Homo sapiens: one gene and its partners. The protein of the gene in region 1 purifies or fractionates together with the protein of each later gene. This does not show direct contact. Each region holds a gene or a part of one and is shown in the gene's direction. Other genes may lie near its edges. The genes, in order: SFXN5, GLB1 and SLC6A15.

Evidence for each region.
Region 2: the proteins of SFXN5 (region 1) and GLB1 purify together in Homo sapiens (co-immunoprecipitation; 3 studies listed by BioGRID and IntAct, with this or other methods). This does not show direct contact.
Region 3: the proteins of SFXN5 (region 1) and SLC6A15 purify together in Homo sapiens (affinity purification with mass spectrometry; 2 studies listed by BioGRID and IntAct, with this or other methods). This does not show direct contact.

What each region holds. Positions count from the first base shown.
Region 1 is NC_000002.12:73,069,912-73,073,662, reverse strand, and holds the start of SFXN5 (sideroflexin-5), read left to right. Parts: upstream 1-1,950; 5' UTR 1,951-1,957; coding exon 1,958-2,059; intron 2,060-2,338; exon of another isoform or gene 2,339-3,203; intron 3,204-3,751. UniProt on the Homo sapiens protein: Mitochondrial amino-acid transporter. Transports citrate. Does not act as a serine transporter: not able to mediate transport of serine into mitochondria.
Region 2 is NC_000003.12:32,999,501-33,003,251, reverse strand, and holds part of GLB1 (beta-galactosidase isoform a preproprotein), read left to right. Parts: intron 1-3,751.
Region 3 is NC_000012.12:84,864,069-84,867,819, reverse strand, and holds part of SLC6A15 (sodium-dependent neutral amino acid transporter B(0)AT2), read left to right. Parts: exon of another isoform or gene 1-590; intron 591-626; coding exon 627-786; intron 787-3,751.

The sequences.
Region 1 (3,751 bases):
TTCCTCTGGGCTTTATTCACTCCCAGCCCTGGCCCTGACCTTTGTGGGCCTCCCTAATGCCCAGGGCATGGATGGCTTCAGAGGAGTTTTTGAATCGAAGCCCAGGGTCCTTGTTGATGTTTCTTCTCCTAGCCACACTTGGAGGAAAGTTGCAGGTGGGTTGGGCAGGGAGCAGGCATGGTTCTGCTTTGCTGTTTGTCTTCCTAGTTAAGGCTCTTTATAAAGAGCTTGTTCTTCATGTTTTAAGCACTTTATGAAGAATAAAACATTCATGTACTGCAGGTGGCTCTGTTGTGTTCCTGTTTTGGAATGAACAGTTACAGGAGGCTGCTGTGGGAGAAAGCACCTTAAATCAAGGTGATGGGATTCTTGGATGACACTGTCCCTGCCCCTTATAAGGGGGCAGCAGCACAGTGTTGCCCAGCAGCCTGAACTTAGTCTTTTCTGACTCCCAGGGTACCCACATTTATTGCGCACCTAAGATGGGCCCATTTATTGGTAATACAGAGGGTAAGAAATGGATTCCTATTCTCAAGTTGCATGGTCTAGCAGGGGAAGATAAGATACAAATCCAAGATACAAATAGTTCTTCATGGCTAGATAGAATCTCTAAGATAAGATACAAATCCAAGATACAAATTGTTCTTCGTGGCTAGCTAGAATCTCCCCCTAGCTTTATGAAAAGTGTTTCTTGTGGTTCAACTACTAGAGGATGAAAAACTTTGACTGCTACAGCTCATGTAGTGTCCAGAAACACTGGCAGACATGAGCCAACCCTGCACTCCACCACGAGACTAATGAGACCCAAAGTGGAGTTCCCTAGAAGACCAAATATTTCTACTGTCATCTTGGGCAAAACAGGCAGCTCCCGAAGTCTGGCTCACTGACCAGGTAATTCAGCTGGGAATCTTCAGCTAATCCATTCTACAACTGTATGTGTTTATTATCCATACTGATCCTTACTCCACAATCTGTAATACTCCCCCTTACCTAACACCCTCCCCACCCACCCTAGTCCCAAGTTCTCCTCCTGCCCAGGAATTAGGCCCAGGAGGGATCTTCCTTGGTTGGCCAGACAAGGTGAAAGCTGCCAGGGCTCTTAATCCCCCACTGATGAACTCACAGCCAACACTTATTTGAGTCTCTACTGTGAGCCCTTTTATGTCTGGCTCTGAAAACTGAAGTGAATCAAAAAGTCATAGCCCCTGCCCTGTGAACTTTACAGTAAGAAAGACTGTCCAGAACAGTAAGTAGTTGTGAGTGCAAAAGAGAAGTGCTGGGTGCCACGGAGCCTCTGTGGGATTTTGTGCAAGCAGAGTGATGGACTGGGAAATGCAATGTTTAGGCTAAAGCCAGAAAGCCAGCATCAGGCGAAGATTTAGTCTTCCGGGTACAGAATGTTCAGGGGTCGGGAGGCGGGCAGGCCCCAGCATGCTCCAGGAACTGAGTGTCAGGGCAGCCGGAGAGCACAGGACGAGTGGGCAGGGTGGCGACGGAGGAAAGTACGAGAAGGTCCGCAGTGCAACTCCTTGGAGAAAGCCTTCCGAGGTTAACCCTACTCCGCCTGGAGTCTTTGCCCATCTGGTCCCAGGTTCCCCCTTGAATGGGACCCTTCTGCGCTGCCTGGCCCCAGGAGCGACGCCCACGGCAGCAACTCTAACTTCTGGGGGCAACTAAGCAGCGAGGGGTGGCCCGTGGTCGTCGTACAGGAACACCTTTCCTGGACTGCCGACCTTGCACCTTGCAACGCGGACAGCGGGCACCGAGACCTCTCCGGACGGCCGCAACTCTCCGCAGTCTACGGTTGTAAGCGCCGCGACGCGAAAAACTACACTCCCCACAACGCCTTGCGCCTCCCGCTCGCTGCGGTTGATTAGGGCCAATCGGGAGAGGCAGCTGTGGCGGGGGCCGAGGAGGGACATTTTAAAAGGGCCGGAGATTGCGGGCGTCAGTGGCCATGGCGGATACAGCGACTACAGCATCGGCGGCGGCGGCTAGTGCCGCTAGCGCCTCGAGCGATGCACCTCCTTTCCAACTGGGCAAACCCCGCTTCCAGCAGGTGAGGACCGGGCTGTGGTCTGCGGGCCGGCGGGTGGCAAAGAGAGGACGAGCAAACTCCCCTCCAAAGTCCCCTTCCGCCCAAGGGTCTCCCACCCGCGGCCAGCGGAGCCTGCAGCTAGCGCCAGGGGGGGAACCTCGGTCACAGTCACCCTTTTCCCATTGGTCAACGGGGCGGGCGCGGACTCCCATCTTGGCTTCCTATTGGCCCTTGGCGCCGTCACTCCCCGACTGCCCGCGCCCTCTAGCCTTTCCCGCCCGCGGCGCCCTGTGATTGGCCACCGGCGGCTGCGGTCAAGGTCCCGAGCGCCCGGCTTCGAGCGGCTGCTCAGGGTCGCTCCGGGTTGTGCAGCTGCCCGCCCGGGACGCAAAGTTCTAGTCTGGCCCTGGATGGGAAGTTGGCGTGGCCGGGATGCCTTCTAACTTTTTCCCCCGGTGGGGACTGACGTTCCTTTCGAGCTGCTGGCGGTGCCGCCGGGCAGCGTCGCGCCCCGCGGTCACTCCCCAGCCCTGGCCCCCAAGCCGGGCTCGGCGCGCGCAGCAGGTTGAGGGGGCGAGTGCCGAGGCGAGCGGCGGTCCGGCGTCCCCCGTCCCTGCTCTCCATCTCGGGCTGAGGATTCGCTGACGCAGCAAGCCGGCCGATGCCCTGAGGGGACGCAGCCAGGGCGTGCGGGGGAAACGCTGTGTCATCCCCTGGGGCCGTCGTCCCTCCGAGGGGCTGCCGCCTGGGAACCCCCCCCCAGCCTCTTCCTCGCTGTGTTCTCCGCGGAGGGTCTCCCGCGCCCGGGCCCCCGCGCCGCCGGGGACTGGCTCTGGGCACACCCGCTCAGGCTCTTCGGGGCACGGCGACAGGGGTCCTTTCCCTCCGGGACCTCCTCTGGGGCGTCGCCGACTCGGCCCTAGACTGCGGAGGCGGGGGTGGAACGCGGAGCCCGGGCGCCTGGTTGGGCCCGGAGACCGGAGCCGGGGAGGGGCCGCTCCCGCGCCGCAGACCCTCGGGCTCCCGCGCCTCCCGCACCAATGAGACGGAATTTATTAGGAAACAGGCAGAGAGACCGCTGAAGTGAACCGGGGCTTGCCAGGGGTGGGCGGCAGCCGAGGCGGCCAGAAAAGAACTTTGAAGGAAGAAAGGAAATTGTGCTAAGGTCGGTGCGGTGGCTTTTTTTTTCTTTTTTTGTTGTTGTGGTGGAAGGGGACTGGTTCCAGCAAGGGGGTGCCCCGAGCTTTGCTGATAATTAGGGAACTTGGCTCCTGAGCCGTCTGAAAAAAATGTCCCCAGTGTTTCTTAACAGGACTTTAATTCCTTTTAAAAGTAGGCCATCTCAGCATGTAGGTATCCGAGGCGAGACTGGCATCTTCCTTCCAGTGTAGGAGGCCATCTAGGGCGAGAGTGTCGGGGTGTCCCTGCCTGGACTTGAGTGACCTTATTACATTGCCTGTCCCCGCTCCCACCCCCATTCTGCTCGTTCTTAAAGGCTCAGTCGGGCCTGCCTCTCTGGCAAACACTTGCTCCCTTCTTCTCTGGTCCCATCAGATCGCAGGCTTCCTCCTGCACATCTCTTTGGCCACCTGAGTCAGATCCTCATAGCTCTCCATACAGTCTGCCCTGTGGTCTTCTAAATGTTTGCTGTGTGACGACTTGGTTTCCTCAAACCCCCTGTAGGCCTTTTGCAAGAAGGGGCTGATCTTGCCC
Region 2 (3,751 bases), on another chromosome or scaffold:
AAGAATTTTTATTTGGGATTTGATGAGAAGTGATTTATCTTTTATGCTGTTATTTTATGCATTTGATGGCTTCAGTTCTATTTGGACCTGTCCCAAAATATAGAGAAACCATAAAGTTATTTAATTTTATTACTTTAAGACTGAGGAGGAAGCAAAAAAGTGTGATTTGCGTCAGCTGCAGAGCCTTTTGGGGTTCTGAAGGAAGGGGAGAATTAATCTTCTGTGTATTTCATTGAGATCTATTTAACCTCTTATTTCTAAGCAAGCCTTGTAAGAGGCTTTTACCTTTTTTTCTTTTCAATTCTCCTCTTTTTCTTCTCTTTCTCCCAGGTAAGCATCACAGTGATTCATGAGTTCGGTGTGTGAGAGCCTTTAACCTTGGGAACTGGACCTTTGTCTTTCCCATTTTAAGTCCTGCAAGTGTCTAAATGTTTTCTTTCAGAGTGTGACAAAGGCAGCATTCACCCTGAGCTTATTGTTGCTTTTAAAGGAGCTCCCAAAAAATTTTGGAAAATTTTAAACTACAACTTAAAACAGTAGTGAGACCAGGCACAGAGGCTCACACCTGTAATCCCAACATTTTGGGAGGTGAAAGCAGGAGGATCACTTGAGGCCAGGAGTTTGAGACAAGCCTAGGCAACATAGTGAGATTCTATGTCTATTTTTAAAAATAGTTTTTAAGTTAGCTGGCCATGATGGCTAACAACAACACGTGCATACCTCCCCCCGATAGTTTCACACCTATAGTCCCAGCTCCTCAAGAGGCTGACACAGGAGGATCGCTTAAGCCCAAGAATTCGAGGCTGCAATGGACTATGATAGTGCAGCTGCAGTCTAGTCTGAATGACAGCGTGAGACCCTGCCTCATAAGGAAGGAAGGAAGGATGGAAGGAAGGAAGGAAGGGAGGGAGGGAGGGAGGGAGGGAGACTTTTGTTTTAAATTCCATTTATCCAGATAGTTTAAAACAGACAGACAAACACATGTATCTGTCTGATCAACAAAAAAGTAGGTCAGGCATTTCCAGGAACCTCACATTTATGAAACTATTATTATTGCCTTAGTGATTACAGCAAAGGGTGGAGAGTCTGCCAGGGTCAAGCCGTGGTCAGAGAAAGTCACTTTGTCATGGAACTATTTTAACTGAGACTGCCTTAGGAAGCCCCAGAAACCACTGCTTGGTCCCCATGGGGCTGACTTCATTAAGAGTGTATCTACTTTTAGATCATATTCAGCAACACGTGCATACCTCCCCACCAAAAATAATTGCAAAAGCATAACTTTTTAAGAGAAATAAAAATCAATGTATATATTTTTTAAATAGAATTTTTAAAGGTAAATTATATTAAAGTGTTTTTCATTGGTTCTAATCAAGGAGGGAAGGCAAATGTTTTTCTTTTAGTGAACAATATTCTTTAAAACTCTTAAACTGGGAGCAGAGGAACGTGAAGAATTCTTTCAGAAGGGCTTCATGTCACCTCTTCAACGAATCTTTTCTTGGCAGAATTATCAACAAGTAGCAGCAGCCATGAGTGCTACTAAGTGTATATTGAATATCACTCTCCTGCGTGCGGAGAATCTCGCCTCAAACAAAATGGACAAAGACTTTCCCTTCCTAGAGCCTGTGTTATAGCTGGAAATAGCTCATAAACTAGTCATCAAACAAAAGATATGAATTTCAAATCATGATAATAACTAGAAGAAAAAGAAAAAATGAAAGGATAGTGAGTGACTTGGAATGGAAAGCCCAGCATTAAGGAGGAGGGTCGTGGCCCTGCCTGAGTGATGAGAAGGCTTCAGGCTGAGGTGAGTAGTGTTTGCACATGGGGACGAGCTGATGCCCAAGCAAAACTAACTGAAAGTAATTGGGGAGCTGTGTGTGGTGATGCACATCTGAAGATCCAGCTTCTCGGGAAGCTGAGGCAGGAGGATCGCTTGAGGGCAGGAGTTTGAGGCTGTATTGTGCCTGTGAATAGCAACTGGAGTCCAACCTTGGCAATGTAGCAAGATGTAAGAGTGAGAGAGAGAGAGAGAAGAGAGAAGACAGGAAGGAGGAGAAGAGAAGAAGGAGAAGGAGAAGAGGAGAGGAGAAGAGAAGAGAGAAAGGAAGAACAAGAAGGAGAAGAAAGAGAAGGAAAGAACAAGAAGTAGTGGAGAGTGGAGTGAGCAAGGGGGAGTGCGGCAGACACAAGGAGGAAAGGAGGAAGGTATGGGCTGTGGACCACAGGAAGGAGGTTTGAAACAGGAATGTGTGAAAAGAATCCTATTTTCACTTTGGCAGCTATGCAGAGCCTAGATTCTAGAGTTAATAAAGTCAAGAGACTGTGAGGAGGCTGCAGCAGTCTAAGACAACATTGATTTATGACTTGCTCTGGAAGTCAGGCTGTGAGGATAGAGAGAAATGGAAGACTGATGGTCTAATAATGAAGTCACTAGGATCTCACCATACCTTAGCTCTGTAGTCCAGTGCAGTAGCTTCTTGTATAATATTGTTGGGTTTTTTCTGTTTGTTTTGTTGTTGTTTTTTTTAACTGAGTCTTGCTCTATCACCCAGGCTGGAGTGCAGTGGTGCAATCTCAGCTCACTGCAACCTCCACCTTCCAGGTTCAAGCGATTCCCCTGCCTCAGCCTCCTGAGTAGCTGGGATTACAGGCACCCACCACCATGCCTGGCTAATTTTTGTATTTTTAGTAGAGACAGGGTTTCACCATATTGACCAGGCTGGTCTCGAACTCCTGACCCCAAGTGATTTGCCCGCCTTGGCTTCCCAAAGTACTGGGATTGCAGGCATGAGCCACCACACCTGGCCTTGTATAATATTCTTTACAAGAACGTTCATTTTTAACCACATATGGTTAAGTTTAAATTAATTAAATGTGAAAATTCAATTCCTCCTTCACACTTTTTTAAAAAATAGCTACTCTTTATAGTATCACTAAAGTTGGACACATGCATATCCCATGACCCAGCAATTCCATTCCTAGCATTCCCCTCCTGTAAGAAACATGTGCATGGCCAGGCGAGGTGGCTCATGCCTGTAATCCCAGCACTTTTTGGGAGGCTGATGGGGGAGGATCACTTGAGACCAGGAGTTTGAGACCAGCCTGGGCAACATGGCGAAACCTCATCTCTAAAAAAGTACAAAAATTAGCCAGGCATGGTGGGGCATGCCCGTAGTCCCAGCTATGTGGGAGGCTAAGGTGGGAGGTTGACACTACAGTGAGTCGTGATGGTGCCACTGCATTCTAGCCTGGGTGTCTGGAGTGAGATCTTGCCTCAAAAAGGAAAAAAGAAAAAGAAAAAGGCCAGGCATGGTGGCTCACGCCTGTAATCCCAACACTTTGGGAGGCCGAGGTGGGCGGATCTCTTGAGGCCAGGAGTTGGAGACCAGCCTGGGCAACATGGCAAAACCCCATCTCTACCAAAAATACAAAAATGAGCTGGGCATGGTGGTGCACGCCTGTATTCCCAGCTACTCAGAAGGCGGAGGAACAAGAAGCTCTTGAACTTGGGAGGTGGAGGCGGAGGCTGCAGCGAGCCAGGATTGCACCACTGCACGATAACCTCCCCAGAGCAATGGCTGCTGCTTCTCTCCACCCTCCCAATCTCAAGCAAGGGCCTCTTCTGACCAACGCTAACCCAGAACCATCCAGGGAAGGGGATCCAGGGAAAACAATTCCCAGCTTACCTACCAGGTGCACAGTCCACCCGGCATGTGAGGGCCCATCTCTTGGATGCTTATGAAATGGAACT
Region 3 (3,751 bases), on another chromosome or scaffold:
TGTGGATGATCAGATTGCTCAACTCCATTATAATTTGTTTCCAAACTAATCTGTTCAGGCAAGATAAAGATATAAATGTGGATTGTTGCTGAGGTTAAGTCTGGTCAGATTTTTCCACTTATGCTTGAAAAGTAACCATATTTCAATCAAATATATAATATGTATATTTCATAATAATATAAGCAATATTAGTCTCATTATTAATTCAAAAATCTCATCTATATTTCAACACTGTAGAACATTATTAAATGAATAAATGACCTATAAATATTTGGTGCCTGAAGAAGTCACTTTGCTATTAATTATACGAATAGAGTATGGAAATTTATACTTTTAAATTTTTCTCTAAACTTTGACTCATTTATTATTGTACTTGGTAAATGAGTTTCCACGGGCTCAGGGAGATGAATTACTGTCTTAGAATAAATTTGTATGAATGTTGAGGCTACACCCAGGTAACCTAATTCCTAATAGGTTATATGCCATGTATCAGGAAAGGTATTGCCTGTTTATATGATGGACATGTTATAAAAGTTTTAAAAGTTTGAATATAATAATTTATAATAAAGTTTAAAGGCCTTGTCTCTGAATAGAGTCTCATTTTTTCATTTATTTCTTTTGTCTAGTTATCTGTTGTCTTCTGGCATTTTGTATTGGCCTGATATTTGTGCAACGCTCTGGAAATTACTTTGTTACAATGTTTGATGATTATTCTGCTACACTGCCTCTGCTAATTGTAGTCATTTTGGAGAATATTGCTGTATGCTTTGTTTATGGCATAGATAAGTAAGTATATTTGCTTTTATGTATTCACTTTTAATCTCTAGTTTGAAAACATCAATTATCAATGTTCATTTCATTTAGAAGAGGAAATAAATGAATAGAGGGAACAATTCTTTAAAAAATCAAACCTTTTGCAGGCTCTCACTGATTCAACAGTTTTGGTAAATTACATTTCCCTGTTGGGCAAATAGAATTATATAGGATGTAATAGTATGTAGAATTTTAGATCTTTGATTTGGTCCTGGTTATCAAATAGCTAACTTTCAGGATTTAGTAAGTATTGGCAGAGTTCCAAGAACCTTAGTTTCTTTTGAGTTCTTTATTGTTATCTACATTTCACAGATAAGGAAAATCAAGCTTAGAGAGACACCCTGTGACTTGCCTGTCACCCACCTGGACAGCAGCAGACCTGGGACTCATGTCCATTTCTGTTTAACTCTAAAGCTTATCTCCTAATTATATTGCTAAATTGATTTATAAGAGGAGTGCATGTGTCATAATGCCTTATATAGCAGGACAATATTGGGAAATGATATTTTCCCAGGTCTGAGATGTATATGTCATTTGCTGCACAGAAACATTATTTTTATATAGAGTCATTACTTAAATTCACTATACGCATAAATAATGAATAAATTCACTATTTATTCATAAATTCATATCAAATACACATACTTTTCACACCATTCAGGTACACTGATGTGAAAAGTGTATGTATTTGAAATGATGTGAAGCACCAGAGTTCTCTCAAGGGAAAAAGACCTTTGGAGGATTTGTCCAATACTTTTTATAGTCACTGTCTCTAATCACATACATGGACTGAGAGGTAGTAAGATCACCAAGCTCATTACAGCCCTATGTAAAGTAGTAATGCATGCACCTTAAGTGAAGGCCAGAGTCCTTTTAAGCAGCATAAAGAATATTGTGGGTATTGAATGAGCTTTATAACAAAGCTTAGAGAATGTTTTTTGTGGTTGCCAAAAGCTCCAGGTCAGGAAGCTTAGGAGAACTTACATTTAATAATCATGTACTGTATAATAATAGTAGTAATAGCTCTTAGTGTATAATCCAGCAATCATGCTACTTGGTATTTACCCAAAGGAGTTGAAAACTTATGCCCACTTAAAATTCTGCACGTGGGTGTTTATAGCAACTATATTCATAATTGCCCAAACTTGGAGGCAAACAAGATATCCTTTAGTAGGTAAATGGATAAATTGTCATACATCCAGACAATGAAATATTATTCAATCCATGAAAAGACACAGAGGAAATTTTAATGCACATTACTTAGTGAAAAAAGTCACATATGAAAAGGTTACATATTGTAAGATTCCCCTATATTATAATATGGAAAAGGTAAAACTATGGAAACAGTAAAAACATCAGCAGTTAACAGGGGTTGGGCCAGATCCAGGGATGTATACGCTGAGCACAGAATGTTTAGGGCAGTGAAACTACTCTGTATGACACTGTAATGGTGGACACACGTCATTATACATTTGTCCAAATCCAGAGAATGTACTACACAAACAGTGAATTCCAGTGTAAACTGTGGGCTCTAGGTAATAATGATGTGTTAACTTATGTAGGTTCATCAATTGTAACCAACATTCCACTCTCGTGGGGGTTGCTGATAATGGAGGAGGTTATGCACATATATTGGTAGGAGCTATATGGGAAATCTCTCTACTTTCAGCTCAATTTTGCTGTGAACCTAAAATTGCTCTTAAAAAATAAAGTGTGTAATCAAAAAATACTCCTTGTTAACTAACATGATCCATATCTTACAGATGGGAAACTGCCCCTTCTTTTACAGGAGGATACAATATGTTAGCTGTAGAGCCAGTACTGTAACCTTGACCTTCATTTCAAGGCCAGGTTTCTCTAAGCTTTACTAGGCTACTCAAAACTCATAACCTGTACCATGATGGAATTTGATATTGTTTTTGGACTGATCTGTAAATAAATACATTTGTAATTTAGATTTCCATTTAGACAGTTCGTTATTCATGATAGACTTACTAAAGAATCTCTCTTTTTAATGCTAGTGTTCCTGAATAACACTATTTATAACAACAGAAGAAAAAATACTACTACTAATAGATGCATCTGTCGATTTTGTACCATATGTGAGGTAGTATGCTAAGCATCCATTGTTTATGGTTCTAGTAATAACCCTCAAAGGTGGGTATTATATTATATTTTTGGAAAACACCAAAAATGAAGCTTAGAGAGATTAAGATATACATCAAAAGAACACAGAACTGTGATCTGAAATGAGGTCTCTTGGTCTTCAAAGTTCATATTTTTTCTAAAGGGCAGGTGTAGAATTCTTACATTGAAGATGTCCTTTAAGATTCTGGAGCAACTTGGAAGAAATGAAAAAGGGAAGAGAAACATAGAGATTAAGACTGGGCCAGGTGTGGTGGCTCAAGCCTGTAATCCCAACACTTTGGGAGGTCAAGGTGGGCAGATCACTTGAGGTCAGGAGATCGAGAGCAGTCTGACCAACATGGTGAAACGCCATCTCTACTAAAAATACAAAAATCAGCCGGGCGTGATGGTGGTCGCCTGTAATCCCAGCTACTCGGGAGGCTGAGGCAGGAGAATTGCTTGAACCTGGGAAGATGAGGTTGCAGTGAGTCGAGATTGTGCCACTGTACTCCAGCCTGGGCAACAGGTGAGACTCTGTCTCAAAAAAAAAAAAAAAAAAGAAAGAAAGAATGGACTCAAGAGACATAACAATTCATAACAATTAGTTATTATATGTAGACCTTTTTAGAAATTCGGAATGTAAAAAGAAGAGTTCAGAAAATATAACATTGATTAGGTATATTTGATGATATTAAGGAATTATTATTATGCTTTTAATGCTGTGATATTAAGGAATTATTACTTTTACTAATTATTACTAAAGTAATAGTAAAATTATTAGGAAAAGTAGTAATTAGTAAAATTATTTACT